Linked DNA regions of Homo sapiens: region 1 is linked to region 2. The links come from fine-mapping of genetic effects on gene expression. Tissue or cell type: blood mononuclear cells. Region 2 holds a variant in brackets; the other region holds the start of a gene. All regions are shown on one strand. Distances are from middle to middle.

What was found. PIP is the estimated chance that this variant, and not a neighbour inherited with it, causes the effect.
Region 1: CYB5D2 starts here. The variant in region 2 is fine-mapped to the expression of CYB5D2 in blood mononuclear cells (TOPMed, PIP above 0.99).

Annotation. Positions count from the first base shown.
Region 1 is chr17:4,138,814-4,146,918 of GRCh38, reverse strand. It overlaps CYB5D2 (cytochrome b5 domain containing 2), which reads right to left and starts at 3,722. Exons shown (of 4, transcript NM_144611.4): 1 at 2,914-3,722. The coding sequence starts at 3,163. ZZEF1 (zinc finger ZZ-type and EF-hand domain containing 1) reads left to right here and starts at 3,889. Exons shown (of 55, transcript NM_015113.4): 1 at 3,889-4,377. The coding sequence starts at 4,024. RefSeq lists enhancers at 2,874-3,453, 3,024-3,576, 3,604-3,913, 3,577-4,128 and a silencer at 3,994-4,163.
Region 2 is chr17:4,201,971-4,209,970 of GRCh38, reverse strand. It overlaps ANKFY1 (ankyrin repeat and FYVE domain containing 1), which reads left to right. Exons shown (of 25, transcript NM_001330063.2): 5 at 24-147; 6 at 1,889-2,038; 7 at 3,485-3,650. Among named protein-coding and RNA genes, the nearest start is that of ANKFY1, 58 kb to the left of the region's middle. RefSeq lists a silencer at 2,721-2,921. The variant G/T (reference allele first, on the strand shown) is at 4,288.

The sequences.
Region 1 (8,105 bases), 63 kb after region 2:
TGATGCTAGGTGAAAGAAGCCAGACACAAAAGGCCACACGTATGACTCCATGAAATGCCCACAATAGGCCAATCGACAGGAAAAGAAAGTAGATAGTGGTTGGCAAAGGAAGGAATAAGGAGTGACTGCTAATAGATAAGAAGTTTCTTTCTGGGGTGAGAAGAATGTTCTAGAGTTAGTGGTGACATTTTTACAAATTTCTGGCTATACTAAAAAAAAAAACCCACCGGGCCAGGCGCGGTGGCTCAGGCCTGTAATCCCAGCACTTTGGGAGGCTGAGGTAGGCAGATCACGAGGTCAGGAGATCGAGACCATCCTGGCTAACACAGTGAAACCCCGTCTCTACTAAAAATACAAAAACTTAGCCAGGTGTGGTGGTGGACGCCTGTAGTCCCAGCTACTCGGGAGGCTGAGGCAGGAAAATGGCATGAACTCAGGAGGCGGAGCTTGCAGTGAGCCAAGATTGCGCCACTGCACTCTAGCCTGGGCGACAGAGTGAGACTCCATCTCAAAAAAACAAAAAAAACACTGAATTTTGGCTCATACCTATAATCCCAGCACTGTGTGAGACCTAGGCAGGTGGATCACATGAGGCCAGGATTTCCTGTCCAGCCTGGCCAACATGGCAAAACCCCATCTCTATTAAAAATAAAAAAAATTAGCCAGACATGGTGGCACACGCCTGTAATCCTAGCTCCTCGGGAGGCTGGGGCACAAGAATATTGAACCCGGGAGGCAGAGGTTGCAGTAAGCCAAGATTGCGCCACCGCACTCCAGCCTGGGCTAAAGAACCAGTTTATCTCGAAAAATAAAAATAAATAAATAAAAAGGTTGGGGGCAGTGGCTCACACCTGTAATCCCAACACTTTCAGCGGCTGAATCACTTGAGCTCAGGAGTTCAAGACCGGCCTGGCCAACATGGCGAAAACCCATCTCTACAAAAAATACAAAAATTAGCTGCACGTGATGGTGCACACCTATGGTCCCCGCTACTTGGGAGGCTGAAGTGGAAGGATTGCTTGAGCTTGGGAGGCGGAGGTTGCAGTGAGCCAAGATCATGCCACTGCACGCCAGCCTGGGTGACAGAGGCAGACCCTGTCTCTAAACAACAAAAAACCCCACTGAATTGTATACGTTAAAAGGACTTTACATCACGTGAATTACATCTCAATGAGAAATAAAATACTGAATGAACGAATACGTGGACATAACTGCTTCCCAACTAGACTGTGTGGGCGGTGGGGAGCATGTTGCAGACATCTTGGATTCCACAGCCCCTGACACAAGGTAGGTAGTGGTAAATAAAGATGGTCAATGAATACCAGAACACGGGAGCTCAGTAAACAGCAGAGCACACTGAAAAATAAAAAGCACTCCAGACATCGAAGGTTTTATGCCCACACTTGTGCAAACATCCAACGACAGCTCCCACAGCACGCAGCAGGGCAGCGCAACGAAAACTGCCTTCAACTAGCAGCGACAAAACACCTTGATTCCAGTCCCAGCTCTGCTTCTAACTCACTGTGTACCCCTGAGTAAGTCCCTTCCCCTGCTGGACTATCTCAGGGGATTTGCGAGACCAACTGGACTTCATTCCTTTTCTGTCAACTTTTGTATTTCTTTAGTACTTCCTAGACAGAGGGAAGTGGCTTGTATTTTAAGTGCTAGAGGCAGCTTCCCAATTCCCCTAAGATAATGACAAGTGGAAAATGCTTATTTAATGTCAGCCTAGTAGCTGATCTTAGGCTTGCCCTGCACTTTTTTTTTCTTTTTAAATTTTGGAGGTCAGTCCCGCTGGCTGGCAAGGCAACATCTGTAAAAAAGCACTAGGCTGGCCGGGTGTGGTGGCTCACGCCTGTAATCCCAGCACTTTGGGAGGCCAAGGTGGGCGGATCATAAGGTCAGGAGATCGAGACCATCCTGGCTAACATGGTGAAACCCCGTCTCTACTAAAAATTCAACAAATTAGCCGGGCGTGGTGGTGGGCGCCTGTAGTCCCAGCTATTCGGGAGGCTGAGACAGGAGAATGGCGTGAACCCGGGAGGCAGAGCTTGCAGTGAGCCGAGATCAGGCCACTGCACTCCAGCCTGGGCGACACAGCGAGATTCCATCTTTAAAAAAAAAGCACTAGACTGGTGGTCCGAGTCCATATTCTGTCAGTATTCAGGTGTGAGGGTTTCAGGCAAATCGCATCCTTTAACCCCCTCAGCTGTAACACAGGGACACCAGCATAAACTTAATTTGACAAATGTTTCTTGAGGCCTAACATATGCACAACTTTGGTCTACGTATCAAGGACTGTAAAGGTGACTGGACCCCTTTCCTCTGCCCTAACCTTCTAAGGAAGGCAAACAGGTGCATCTTGTACTAGAAGCAGGAATGACTCAGACCAAATGTACTATATGACGGGCCATAAAGGAATAAAGTATTGATGCATGCTCATAAACCATGGATGAACCTTGAAAACACTATGCTTAGGGGTGGGGGGAAGAAAGATTATTTGGGACCAGGGCATAATGAAGAGATGGTTGGAATTATTAAGGAAACTGTGAGGGTAGGGGCGGGGCGGGATCTCGTTTATCTGTGCCCTAAGAGCCCCCACAAAAGTCCGGCACACAGCCCGTATCCTAGGGCTTCCGACGCTGGGTAATGGGTAACAAGAGACAGAAGACATGTTTCTCCAATGTAAGTCACGCAGGGCGGTGGTGGATGACAGAGCTGGCCCACAGTCCCGCCAGAGCCAGAGAGCCTAGAAGGATAGTGCATGCAGCTCGTCCCGCCCACCGCACGGGTTTGATGGATGTGGGGTGGGGATGGGGGGGGAAATAGATGAATAATGAACCAACGAACGACGCGCAGGTGGCTACTGGCTCGCGCCAGCGGAGAGAAAGGCGTGAGCAGCCTCGCTGATACCTGCGAAGCCGCTATAGTGGGACCCAGGCTCGTAGTGCCTCCGGCCGGAGGACACATCGTAGACACGGCCGAGCAACGCCAAGTACAGGCCCGGGTCCCCTGGGCCGCCGCGGTAGCGAGACAGCTCCTCCGGTATGAAAAGGCGAAAGCCAGCGCGGGGACCCCACCAGCCCATAAGCCGTGCTGCCATTACCGCTGCTGCGGCTACAGCCAGGCCCAACAAAAGCCCACGGCCTCCGCACCTCAACATCTATATAGGCCCACCCGCTCCGCACTTCCGAGGTTGCCGCCTCTATCTACAGCTAAGATGGCCGAGACGCCGAGCGTGACGTCATCGGCGCGCGCGCTCTCGCTCTCTCTCTCGCGCGCTAGTGCTCGCGCTCCCTCCCTTAGTCTCTCTCGTTTTATCTGTATTCCTGGCACTGGCGAAAAGCTCGCTGTCTGCGACTTTTTCCAGGTACTTTTTTTTTTTTTTTCTGAGACAGAGTTTTAGCTCTTGTTGTCCAGGCTGGAGTGCACTGGCGGAATCTCGGCTCACTGCAACCTCCGCCTCCCGGGTTCAAGCGATTCTCCTGCCTCAGCCTCCCAAGTAGCTGGGATTACAGGCACGCGCCCCCACGTCCGGCTAATATTTTGTATTTAGTAGAGACAGGGTTTCACCACGTTGGTCAGGCTGGTCTCGAACTCCTGACCTCAGGTGATCCACCCGTCTCGGCCTCCCAAAGTGCTGGGATTACAGGCGTGAGCCACCGCGCCTGGCCCTTCTCGTACTTCTTGGCTTGCAGGTTGTCAGCCCCAACAAAGATGGCGGCAGCGGAGGCTACGGAATGACGTAGATACTGAGACAGACTCGTCCTCTGGGAAATCAAGGTTGCACCCTTTGAGGCGGCGCTCCCCGCCTAGCTGTCGTGAGTTGGTAGAGGCCGCCTATCTACGTGACGGCGCCTTTGCGACAGCGGTCGTCGCTTGACGGCCAGGAAGCCGGAAGCCGCAGGGGCCGCCGTCGTCTCCTCCGCGTCCCCGCCCGCCAGCTGCTGTCGGAGGTTGACAGGTCGAGGCGGGGAGGCGGCGGCGGCGGCTGCAGAGCCAGGCGCCCAAGACGGAGACCCCATGGGGAACGCTCCGAGTCACAGCAGTGAAGACGAAGCGGCAGCTGCCGGTGGCGAGGGCTGGGGCCCACACCAGGACTGGGCCGCGGTCTCGGGCACGACCCCCGGCCCGGGCGTCGCGGCTCCAGCGCTACCACCCGCCGCGGCGCTGCTGGAGCCGGCCAGGCTGCGAGAGGCTGCTGCAGCGTTGCTGCCCACACCCCCCTGCGAGTCGCTGGTGTCGAGGCATCGCGGCGCGTTGTTTCGCTGGCTGGAAGAGCGGCTGGGCCGCGGCGAAGAGTCTGTCACTCTGGAGCAGTTCCGGGAGCTGCTGGAGGCTCGCGGCGCCGGCTGCTCTAGCGAGCAGTTCGAGGAGGTCAGGGCCGGCAGGCGACTGCGGGGATGGGGCAGGGCGGTCGCCCCCAGGGGACTGAAGGAAGAGGTGGGCATTTGCTTTGGAGAGGCCAGGCGGGGACCCATATGAGGTGTTTCCAGCTTTTCACCAGGCGTTTGCTTCGTTTCTCTTTAACCTATGTTAGAGGTCTGGAAAGTCTGCATCAGGCCGTCCTTGCTCTGAAGAGCTGGACAAGCCCATATGTCTCTCTCTGTATGTTGTAATGCAGACCTTTGTGCAGTTGATTGACGCTACTCTGGAGATCTTCTATCAGATTCTCGAACAGTTTGGAGAGAAAAGAGATGTAAGGATAGGAGGAGTGGCGCTGAGAACCATTTTTTGTATTGTCCTGTCCAGGTTTTTACACAGCACCTTCCCAATTCAGTGTGGGCGCCGAATAAGTGTGGAAAGACAGTAGTAACATGCTGGAAAGGCTCACATTCTAAAACCTATCCTCCTCATGCAAAAACTAGCTTTTCTAAAATACATACTGGTTTGTAGATCCTTAAAGAACCATATATTAGACTCATTTAAACCTTCATAGGATCCGAAACTGATAGGCAAATACCAGGTTTCCTGTGAATACTTGTAATTATGCAGTTCTTCATATAATCACCAAGATCATGTCTGCTAAGTCATTAAGAGAGCAAATTGATTTGGCAACAAAATATTTTCCTTGGAAGGCATTTTGGGAGTTTATTTACTGGGCGCTTCACTTCGAGTTAAGAAGACTGATCCAGGGTTACCCAGTGAATCATTAGTAAAACAGACTATCAACTAGATCTCTTGCTTTTTTTTTTTTTCTTTCTTTCAACTTTTATTTTAAATTCAGGCGTACATGTGCAGGATTTGGATTTGCAGATGTATTACATAGGTAAACGTGTGCCATGGTGGTTTACTCCACACAGCATCCCATCACCCAGGTATTAAGCCCAGCATCCATTAGGTATTCTTCCTGATGCTCTCTCTCCCTCCACCCGCACCCTATTTTTTGTTTTTAATGTCTCACTACCTCCTTCCTGGGATCCTATTTCTTTTAACACCACGGTATGACCAAAAAGGTACTTATTTTGTGAAAATGAGTTAGCCAGTCATGTAGAATCTTCAGTGGCCACGAAGGGTGTGTACATAAAGCAGTAAACCAGCGGGTACTTGCAGTGCCTTTAAAAGGTTCTGTTCACCTTAAAATCAGAGGCTTTTAAAATATTTTAAGAATGTCTTCCTGTACATGGCCAGAATTCAGATAATGTAGTTTGTGTGTTTCTTATGAAAAAAGTACCTTTAAGGCATCCCAACCCTTAAAAATAATAGTCATGGCTGGGCGCAGTGGCTCACGCCTGTAATCCCAGCACTTTGGGAGGCTGAGGCGGGAGGATCATCTGAGGTCAGGAATTCAAGACCAGCCTGGCCAACGTGGTGAAACCCCACCTCTACTAAAAATACAAAAATTAGCTGGGCATGGTGGCGGGTGCCTGTAATCCCAGCTACTTGGGAGGCTGAGGTGGGACAACCGCTTGAACCCAGGAGGCGGAGGTTGCAGTGAGCTGAGATCACGCCACTGCATTCCAGCCTGGGCCTCAGAGCGATACTCTGTCTCAAAAAAAAAAAAAAAAGTCATATTAGTTAGTGAAAGATCTCCTTTTTTTTTCCCCCCAGGAATACACATAGTACCTTCTTTCTAGTATCTACGCGTATTATGAGAATATGAAGTAGTAGTGGGAAGAACCATGCAGAACTGTTGAAGGAGATGGCACTTTGCAGATTTGAGCAAAGGCAAATGGAGAGAAACACCGTTTACATTCTGAGAGTTTCTGACAGAAATAGAACTTTATGTAGAGTTCATAGGAGTCCCTTAATAGAAGGTCAAGAAATACTTGAGGTGTGGTCCAGAAATCACTCAGGGGTTGTGGCATTATTGTTCACTGAGCAAATGTTTATTGGGCGTATATCGAGTGCCACTCACTTGGATGACAGTGGACAAAGCAGATACTTGCTCTTAAAGAGTATGTAGTTGTGGTGGAAGAGACAGGTATTAACCCATTAATTATAAGATATGGTGAGTGTTAACCGAGGGGGAAGGTATAAGGAATAAATAGCAAGTGTATTTAACCTCACTTGGGGCTCAAGCAAGACTTACCTGAGAAGGTAACATTTCAGCCCACAGGTGAATGGTGAAAGCAGATAGTGTTACAGGAGGTAGTAACAGCGTTTCAGGCAGAGGAAATTGTATCCACAAAAGTTCAAAGTCCAGAGAATCTGGAAGAAGTCTGGTGTGGTGTATTAGGGATACACAAAACTTTTTCAAGGGACAGAAAACCTAATGCATCAGTGGTTTAAACATAAAAAGAAGCTGCTTCCTTATGAAAATGTCCAGGTAGGCAGTCCAAGATTGATGTGGCAGTGTTGTCATCATCAGGGACCTGGCTTCGTCCATCTTGTGCTGTCATCCTCCACGGACATCTTCCACTTAGTAATTCTGTTGACTCCTGCTGTCATTTTCCACATTCCAACAAGCAAGAAAGGGAAAAGGGAAGGAGAAGGAAGAAGCCATGCCCACTCTCTTACGGGCATAGCTTACATCCCACAGGCCAAAATTCAGTCACATGGCCGCAGTTACCTGCAGGACAGGCTGGGAAAGATTCTTTTTCCGTGGCCATATATTCAGCTAAAACTCAGGGCTTAATTATTGAGGAAGGGGAGAGAAAACATTGAGTTATATTTGGCAGTCTTTGATTCACATAGCTAGGTCATACAGTTCTGTGAGTGAGGCTTAGCCAAGGTTTAAAAACCTGATTGTGATAATCTCACAGTGGCCACCGTCTCTCATGATAATCTTGTGATGGCTGCTCTGTCTGTAAGAACTAGTAAGTTAGGACTAGCCAAAGAAGATAAGATTTAGCCATGCATTTGATTCTGTGCTTTAAGAATGTCTATCCTTAGACTTGAATAAGTATATACTTTTGTGCATACTTACACAGTTAATTCTGCGTTGTTAATCTACGTCTAAGCTTTTGAGAATATACTGCTGTATTTTACTGCAAGATGAAGGGCTTGTGAAGTAATGTCTTTATAGTAGCAACTAAAATGACAAGTTGTTTCCGTCATTCGTTTTTATAAGAGCTAACATGGTAAAACAGATAGCCACGGGTGCGCATGGTTTATTATAATGCTGAGAGTTTCCAAGTGTTACATGTTTCTTCTTTGGCTTCCCAACTTACGCTGCCATTGGTGTCCACGCAGCTGTCTTGCTTTCACATTCCTGTGACCTCAGTTATTTGAGGAGGTGTTATAAAGAAGTTCTTGGAGTTGGACCATGGACCAAAGTCTGAAACATTATCATTTTATAGTACAACACACCTTTTCTCATGGTAGGTGTGGTCCAGGGAGAAGGTGCGCATGGTTTATTATAATGCTGAGAGTTTCCAAGTGTTACATGTTTCTTCTTTGGCTTCCTAACTTAGCTGCCATTGGTGTCCACGCAGCTGTCTTGCTTTCACATTCCTGTGACCTCAGTTACTTGAGGAGGTGTTATAAAGAAGTTCTTGGAGTTGGACCATGGACCAAAGTCTGAAACATTATCATTTTATAGTACAACACACCTTTTCTCATGGTAGGTGTGGTCCAGGGAGAAGGGACTCTCTCAGTTTGCTCACAAGGAGCAATATTTAATTAACTGCCATGTAGAGGGGAAATAGAATTAAAATTAAGTT
Region 2 (8,000 bases):
TCATGATGAATACTCTCTTACAGATGTGAGAAGGGTGTTATGTCTCTAGTGAATGTCAGGAACTGTATTCGCTTCTACCAGACGGCAGAGGAGCTGAATGCCAGCACACTGATGAACTACTGTGCAGAAATTATTGCAAGTCATTGGGTGAGTGAGGTTGAGGGTGTCAACAAAGCACTCTAGCTGGCAGTCAGGAGACCGCCGCTGGGGACGTAGTTCCATGGAAAGTGACCTCTCTGGCACCTGGTTTTCTCTTGTTACACAATTGAAGAATAAATAGTTTGATTAGATGATCTATGAGACTCTTTTCAACTCAAATTCTGGTAGTTCTGTGATTTCGGAGCCAAAGGACAAAAGATAGCTCAGGTCTGGCCAGGCGCGGTGGCTCACGCCTGCAATTCCAGCACTTTGGGAGGCCCAGGCGGGCAGACCACTTGAGGTCAGGAGTTCGAGACCAGCCTGGCCAACATGGTGAAACCCCATCTCTACTAAAAATACAAAAATTAGCTGGGCTCAGTGGTGCGTGCCTGTAGTCCCAGCTACTCAGGAGACTGTGGCAGGAGAATCACGTAAACCCGGGAGGCGGAGGTTGCGGTGAACTGAGATCGCGCCACTGCACTCCAGCCTGGGTGACAGAGCGAGACTCCGTCTCCCGCCCCCCCAAAAAAGATAGCTGAGGTCCAGAAACAGGCTTGGAAGCATCACCTGCCTTCACCCTCCATCTGTGGAAGCTGCTGCTGAGCTGCAGGAGTAGGGTGTGGCTCCACGGCCAGCAGGCCCTGCAGCTTCAGCAGCACAGTTTCAGAGCTTGCCCTTGCTCTCCTAATCAGGCGGAGAGCATCTTTCAGTTTAGATTTCCCTTTCTTAGGTTGTTTCATCATAAAGAACAGTGTTTACATTTTTTTTTTTTTGAGACTGAGTTTCGCTCTTGTTGCCCAGGCTGGAGTGCAATGGCACGGTCTCAGCTCCCTGCAACCTCCGCCTCCCAGGTTCAAGCGATTCTCCTGCCTTGGCCTCCTGAGTAGCTGGGATTACCGGCATGCAGCACCACGCCTGGCTAATTTTGTATTTTTAGTAGAGACGGGGGTTTCTCCACGTTGGTCAGGCTGGTCTCAAACTCCCAACCTCAGGTGATCGATCCGCCCACCTCGGCCTCCCAAAGTGCTGGGAGTACAGGCGTGAGCCACTGCGCCCGGCCAGTGTTTACATTTTGTTGTTGTTGTTTGCAGTTTTAGAATATTAGGGCTGGTGCTACCTTTTGCAAATTAGTTTCTGCGAATTGTTTGGTATTCAACAACACTGTGGGAAAAGCCTTAGAGTTTCAGAAAAGGCGGCTAAAGAACTGGATTTTAAGGCATTGAAACAGGATTGGTAACCTTTCTTTTAAAATAGGCAGAAATATAGAGATCTGCAATAATAGGGACCAGCTGCGACTCAGTGGAGTGACTTGTTTGTGGAAGTTGGAATTGATTTTGTAACTGCCATCTTTCAGGGGGTGGGAGGAGGACTCCCTGCTCTCATGTGAGGCTCCCTTGGGGCGCATTCCTGTTAGAGGTATGCATGGCTGGTGTTTTGCCACCTCACTGGGAGGCACAGTAATGCTGGAGGAGAGTGAGGCTCGGAACGTCAGCCTTCTGGTTCCCCAGCCATTTAAGGACTGTCTGAACTTGAGCAAGTTATCTAATCTCTTTATGCCATAATATTTTCTTCTGTAAAATGGGGATGTTCAAGTACTTACTTCATTGGGTTTTGGGGAGAAATAAATGAGTTGGGAAAGGTTAAGCCCTTAAAGAAGGGCCTGACTGATGCATTTGAGAGGCTTGCTAAATGGTGGTTGGATTCATTGCCTTGTGTCTGTTCTGCTTTTCACTGTGTTGTGAATTCTCAGGACGACCTGAGGAAGGAGGATTTCAGCAGCATGAGCGCTCAGTTGTTATACAAAATGATCAAATCCAAGACAGAGTACCCGCTACATAAAGCCATCAAAGTGGAGAGAGAAGACGTGGTCTTCCTGTATCTGATTGAAATGGATTCCCAGGTACTGTAGCTGCCTTTTCCATTCTTCATTTCCCGAAACTCTAATGCACTTGTCTTTCTCCGTGGTACTTCTCACTTCCTTCCGAGCCATGACTGGCACAGTCTTTAACGTACGGATTTCTACTAAATAGTTTGTTCAAGGCAATCTGAGCTTTTTCTAACATGTTTCTCAAAATTCTTCCAGCCTTAGCCCATTGCCCAATTTAAAAACCTCTTAAATGCTTTTAGGTAGTTTTTTTTTTTTTTTAAACGCTTCTTAACTTTTAGGTGCCAAAATCTGTGTTAGTTTACTTTTGCTGCTATAATAAATTACCATAAACTTAATGGCTTAAAACAACACAAATGTATTGCCTTACAGTTTTGTAGGTTGGAAGTCTAGGACAGGAATCACTGGCCCAAAATCAGGATGTCGGCAGGCTGTGCTTCTTTCCAGAGACTCAAGAGGAGAATCCATTTCCTGCTTATTTGGATCTTTGGCAGAATTCAGATTCTTGCACTTACAGGATCGAGGTCCCCATTTTCTTGCTGGCTGTCAGCCGAGGGCCATTCCCACCTTCTAGAGCCCTCCACACATTCCTTAGCTCATAGCCCCCGGCTTTTGTCTTAAAAGCCAGCAGTGGTGGGTCAGGTGCTTCTCATGTCACATCTCTCTGACTTACTCTTCTGGTTCCCTTTTTCACTTTGAAGGACTTGTGTGGTTAGATAGATCGGGCCCTCTGTGGTTAGATAGATCGGGCCCTCTGTGGTTAGATAGATCGGGCCCTCTGTGGTTAGACGGGTCGGGCCCTCTGTGGTTAGATGGGTCGGGCCCTCTGTGGTTAGATAGGTCGGGCCTCCTGGATAATCTGGGATACTGTCCCCATCACAAGGTCCTTAATCACATCCTCAAAGTGCCTTTTGCCATGTAACGTGGTATGTTTATAGGTTCTGGGGATTAGGACATGTCCGTCTTTGGGGGGGGTGATAATTCTGCCCACCATATGACCTTGAAAGAAATGTAATGGCTCTTGACAGATGGGAGCGAAGTATGTTTTATCCCGGGTGTCCAGTGTATGGGGAGACATTAAACTGCTGGGAAGAATGAAATAGGAACGCCACTGCCTTTCATGAAAACATTAGCTGTTCACCGTAAAACTCTCTGAGCCTCTGCCTGGCACTCGTGCCCCACAGCACTCTGTCCACATTTTCCTGGTGGCCTTTAATCGTCTCCCACATTGTTTATGTTGGCTATGTGGTCCCCATTAATTCTGTACTCCCTGAAAACATGTACCCTGAGGAAGCCTGATAGAAGTTTGTGAATAAAGTTGAATTTGGGGAGTAAGCAGTGTTGGAGCACTTAAATTTGACATTTGTATAAGAGATGATATTTAAGGGTCAAGGTGGGAGAAATTAAAATAGGTCGTATTCTCTACTCACTGGGCGCTAATTTACAAACTTGTTTGTGTAGCTCCCTGGGAAGCTGAATGAAGCGGATCATAACGGAGATCTGGCATTAGATCTAGCCCTCTCACGACGACTGGAGAGTATTGCCACCACGCTGGTTAGTCACAAAGCTGATGTGGACATGGTGGACAAGAGTGGCTGGAGCTTGTTACACAAAGGAATCCAAAGAGGTAGGAAGAAGTGTGTATGTTTCCCTGCAGGCAATTTTATTTTTATCCGAGTAATTTTTGAAGACTTTCTGACCTTGTTCCCAAAATTCTCAAAGGCTTCTGTAGTCTGTACTCACAGGCTACATGATCTAGAATTTGATCATTGGGTCAGAGGAAGCACTCAAGAGCTGTTGCCTATGCCGTGTTAGTTTGGCCATTCACCGTGCCAACAGGGCCCCAGAAAGAAAGGCTACAAAGATGGTACTTGTGTGAAGAAGTACCTTTTACTTGTAAGCACTTGATATGTTTGCTTGTTCAATGGATGGCTTTCTCCAGGAATTGTGCTAGGAAGGTTTTGCTTTTGTATTCTACCACAGATACAAGGATAGTAGCAAAACCATAAACCTTGAAACGTGTTCTTAGCTTCAGGGTTTTCACTTTAACAGGCTAGGCCTCTATTATGATAAATTGATAGAGTTTCATTTTGTTCTAGCAGAGTTATTTGAAATTGTAGCTATATTTTGAATGCATTGTTAATAGTTGGAAGAATACAGAAATGATAGACTTGAGAACAAAACATTTAAATCTTTTTTTTTTTTTGAGACGGAGTCTTGTTCTGTCGCCCAGGCTGGAGTGCAGTGGTGCGATCTTGGCTCAC[G/T]GCAAGCTCCGCCTCCTGGGTTCATGCCATTCTCCTGCCTCAGCCTCCCCAGTAGCTGGGACTACAGGTGCCCACCACCACGCCCAGCTAATTTTTTGTATTTTTAGTAGAGACGGGGTGTCACCGTGTTAGCCAGGATGGTCTCGATCTCCTGACCTGGTGATCCACCCACCTTGGCCTCCCAAAGTGCTGGGATTAGAGGCGTGAGCCACCGCGTCCTCCCAGAACATTTTAATCTTAATGAATTAACTTGTCAAAGGAAAAAAAAAATACTAGGTTTTTGTTTGTTTTTTTCCATAGTCTTACTAATTCATGAGTCCCAAATGGATCTGGGCTGATTTTGCTTTGCAATGGTCATTTTAGACAGAGTGAAATCTGTATAGAGGTAGAGTTCCAGTGAGAAATGAAAGCTTTCCAAAGTGTCAAAGCGTTAGTTTTGTGGAGGGATGGTTGACTTGATTGAAGTGCATTGCCATGGCCACTTTTTTTTACTTACACGTAGACATCAAAGAGAGAATCTACTTGTTTCGTTCCATCTTAATCATCTATATTTTCCCCTTTTGATGATGCATTGTTATACTATTATTGTCTGTGCTACATTTTTGCCATTCACAAATTGCTCCTAGTTGGTGGAATGTAGTTACATCAAGATGTGGTCCTGTGCCAGCTTTGTCCTTTTTGGGCCAAGGTTTTAATACAAGTATCCTTATAAGCCATGTGCTGGAGTGCTGAGCTTGCTGGCTGGTAGAGAGGAAAATTTTGCTCATCACTGGGTAGGAAATCCTTCGAGTATGTCAGTGTCAAGAGCAGATGCATCTTCCTCAAGCACCGTTATGTGCTGTGCAAAGCCAGCGGGTGCTTAGCACTGAGTGTGATTCAGTGGGGAAATCTCCACCACGTAGGGAATGATTCTTTCCCACACTGTTTCGTGTCTGAGATGTTTATTTTGGAAACAGATACCCTGTTACTAAAAAAAAAAAATCTGAGAATTTTGTTTCTTTCCTCCCAGGGAGTTAATTCTTATGTTTGATGATAAATCATCTTTGAGTTATTAAATATTTTGGTGATTGCTTAGATACAAGAATTGCCAAGAATTAGTGATACATTTTTGATGTTTATTTTCAGATGATTTAACCTTCCACTCTGAGTTTATTAATTGCTTGCAAGTATGTGGATTACAGCGTGGGTATAATAAACTTGATTTTGCTAACTTTAGAGTGTTGCATATTACGGTAGACAGAGCACTGGCTTTATGAAGCTGGTATTCACCAAGGTTTGAATCTGAGCTCATCTGTTTACTCTGTGGCCTTGGACAAGTCACATTCTACGTCTTCCTTATCCATAAAGTGGGAATTACTTTTGCTTTATTGGTTTGTTCAGAGAATGCGAGGCAATGTTAGTAGTACACCCAGCAGTGATTACCAGGGGAATGGTGGGGTCAACCCTGCCATTCATCGCTTGCCCCTGCGTTGGAAATGCCATAACCAGGTCCAGTTCCTGTAGGAGTTTTTTTCACTTTAACTGTTAAAGAGTGAAAGTCTTTAATATATGAGATTTTGGTTTAGTCTGAGCACACATTAGAATCTGTCAACAAAATAGTCAGTGATCATCCTAATAACCAAGTATACCAGTCATTTTATCTAAAGAGTGGAACAGGCAGGCAGTGTCTTGGGGGAGTCCACAGGGGGCACATGTTTGGCCAGAGGGATGCCATCTCCTTGGATTAGCCTGATCTGAGCAAGAAGATGAGTCTTCACTTTATAAAAACAGTTCTTCCTGAACTTTTTTACCTTAATAACCAACATCAGTTGATGGGTTTCTTTTTTCTTTCTTTCTTTCTTTTTTTTTTTTTTTTTGTTGTTGTTGTTGAGACGGAGTTTCGCTCCTGTCACCCAGGCTGGAGTGCAATGGCTCGGTCTCGGCTCACTGCAACCTCTGCCTCCCAGGTTCAAGCGATTCTCCTGCCTCAGCCTCCTGAGTAGCTGGGATTACAGGCACCTGCCACCACGCCCGGCTAATTTTGTATTTTTAGTAGAGACTGGGTTTCTCCATGTTGGTCAGGCTGGTCTTGAACTCCCAACCTTAGGTGATCCGCCCGCCTCAGCCTCCCAGAGTGCTGGGATTAAAGACGTGAGCCACTGCGCCTGGCCGATGAGTTTCTTCAGTAGATTGTTCCTGTTATTTTTAGTAAATTTGAAAATGATGCCACCAACTGGAGCAGCATGAAATATGGTTTGTATTAATTGAATAATGAAGGTTACTGGCTGAATAAAACCATCAAGAAGCTGCATTGAAAGAAATATTATATATGGATTTTTTTAGTGTGAAGTTTTTTGTTAGGAATATTTTTATATGGACGGATTGTAATAGTCAATAGTCATGCCTCATTTACCTGGCAGTGTCAGTGAATGAGGTGATGAAGTAACTGAAACTTTTAAGCACCAGCTTTTATTTTAACTGTTTCTGATGATTTGAAATCTTTCTAAAATGTGTTAACCATTTTCTTATTGACAGAAACCTTATAAACGGTGATTGTGACATTTTCTGTTCCCTCCCTTTGTTCTGCTCTTCTGATATCAGTTGTCCTTTTCCTTTATGTACCCTCTGGGCTTTCTTTTAATGTAAAACTTTATTAATTTTCTATTTCTAGTAATTTCTAAATAGCTTCTTTGTGTGGGGTGAATATATATATATATATATATGTGTATGATTATAAGTAAAAAGAACTTTATATTTGGATCTTATTAATAAAGTAAATCTGATCCAAAGTCTATAATTCTTCTAAGAGGACTTAAGGATTTAAGATATAAAATTTTTTTTTATCATGCTATCCATCTGAATCCAGTCATTCATAGGTTTTCATATACCTGTGCAGTATTGCCCAGTTTATCTTCTGTATGTTTGGTGTATTATACATTTTTCATTAACCTATCTTTTCTTAGCTTTACTGTGTATTTATCTCTCTTTTTTTTTTTTTTTTTTTTTTTGAGACGGAGTTTCGCTCTGTCGCCCAGGCTGAAGTGCAGTGGCACAATCTCGACTCACTGCAAGCTCCGCCTCCCGGGTTCACGCCATTCTCCTGCCTCAGCCTCCCGTGTAGCTGGGACTACAGGCGCGCGCCACCATGCCCGGCTAATTTTTGTATTTTTAGTAGAGACGGGGTTTCACCGTGTTAGCCAGGATGGTCTCGATCTCCTGACCTCGTGATCCGCCCGTCTCGGCCTCCCAAAGTGATGGGATTACAGGCGTGAGCCACTGCGCCCGGCCTCTTTTTTTTTTTTTTAAGACACAGTCTTGCCCTGTCACCCAGGCTGCAGTGCAGTGCTGCAATCTCGGCTCACTGCAACCTCCGCCTCCCGGGTTCAAGCGATTCTCCTGCCTCAGCCTCCCTAGTAGCTGGGATTACAGGCACATGCCACTACGCTTGGCTAATTTTTCTATTTTTGTAGCGATTGGGTTTGCCATGTTGGCCAGGCTGGTCTCAAACCCCTGGCCTCAAGTGAAATGCCCGCCTCGGCCTCCCAAAGTGCTGGGATTACAGTCAGGAGCCGCTGCGCCCGGCCACTATGTATTTGTGTCTTAGTTTGGAATATATTTTAAGCTTAAAGGTAATGAAACTACATTAACCCTTCTCCCCTGAGTATCTCATATTTTGGACTTTTCATTAAGGCCCTTTGTCCTAATAATTCTAAAGTTTCTTTCTACTCCCAGAA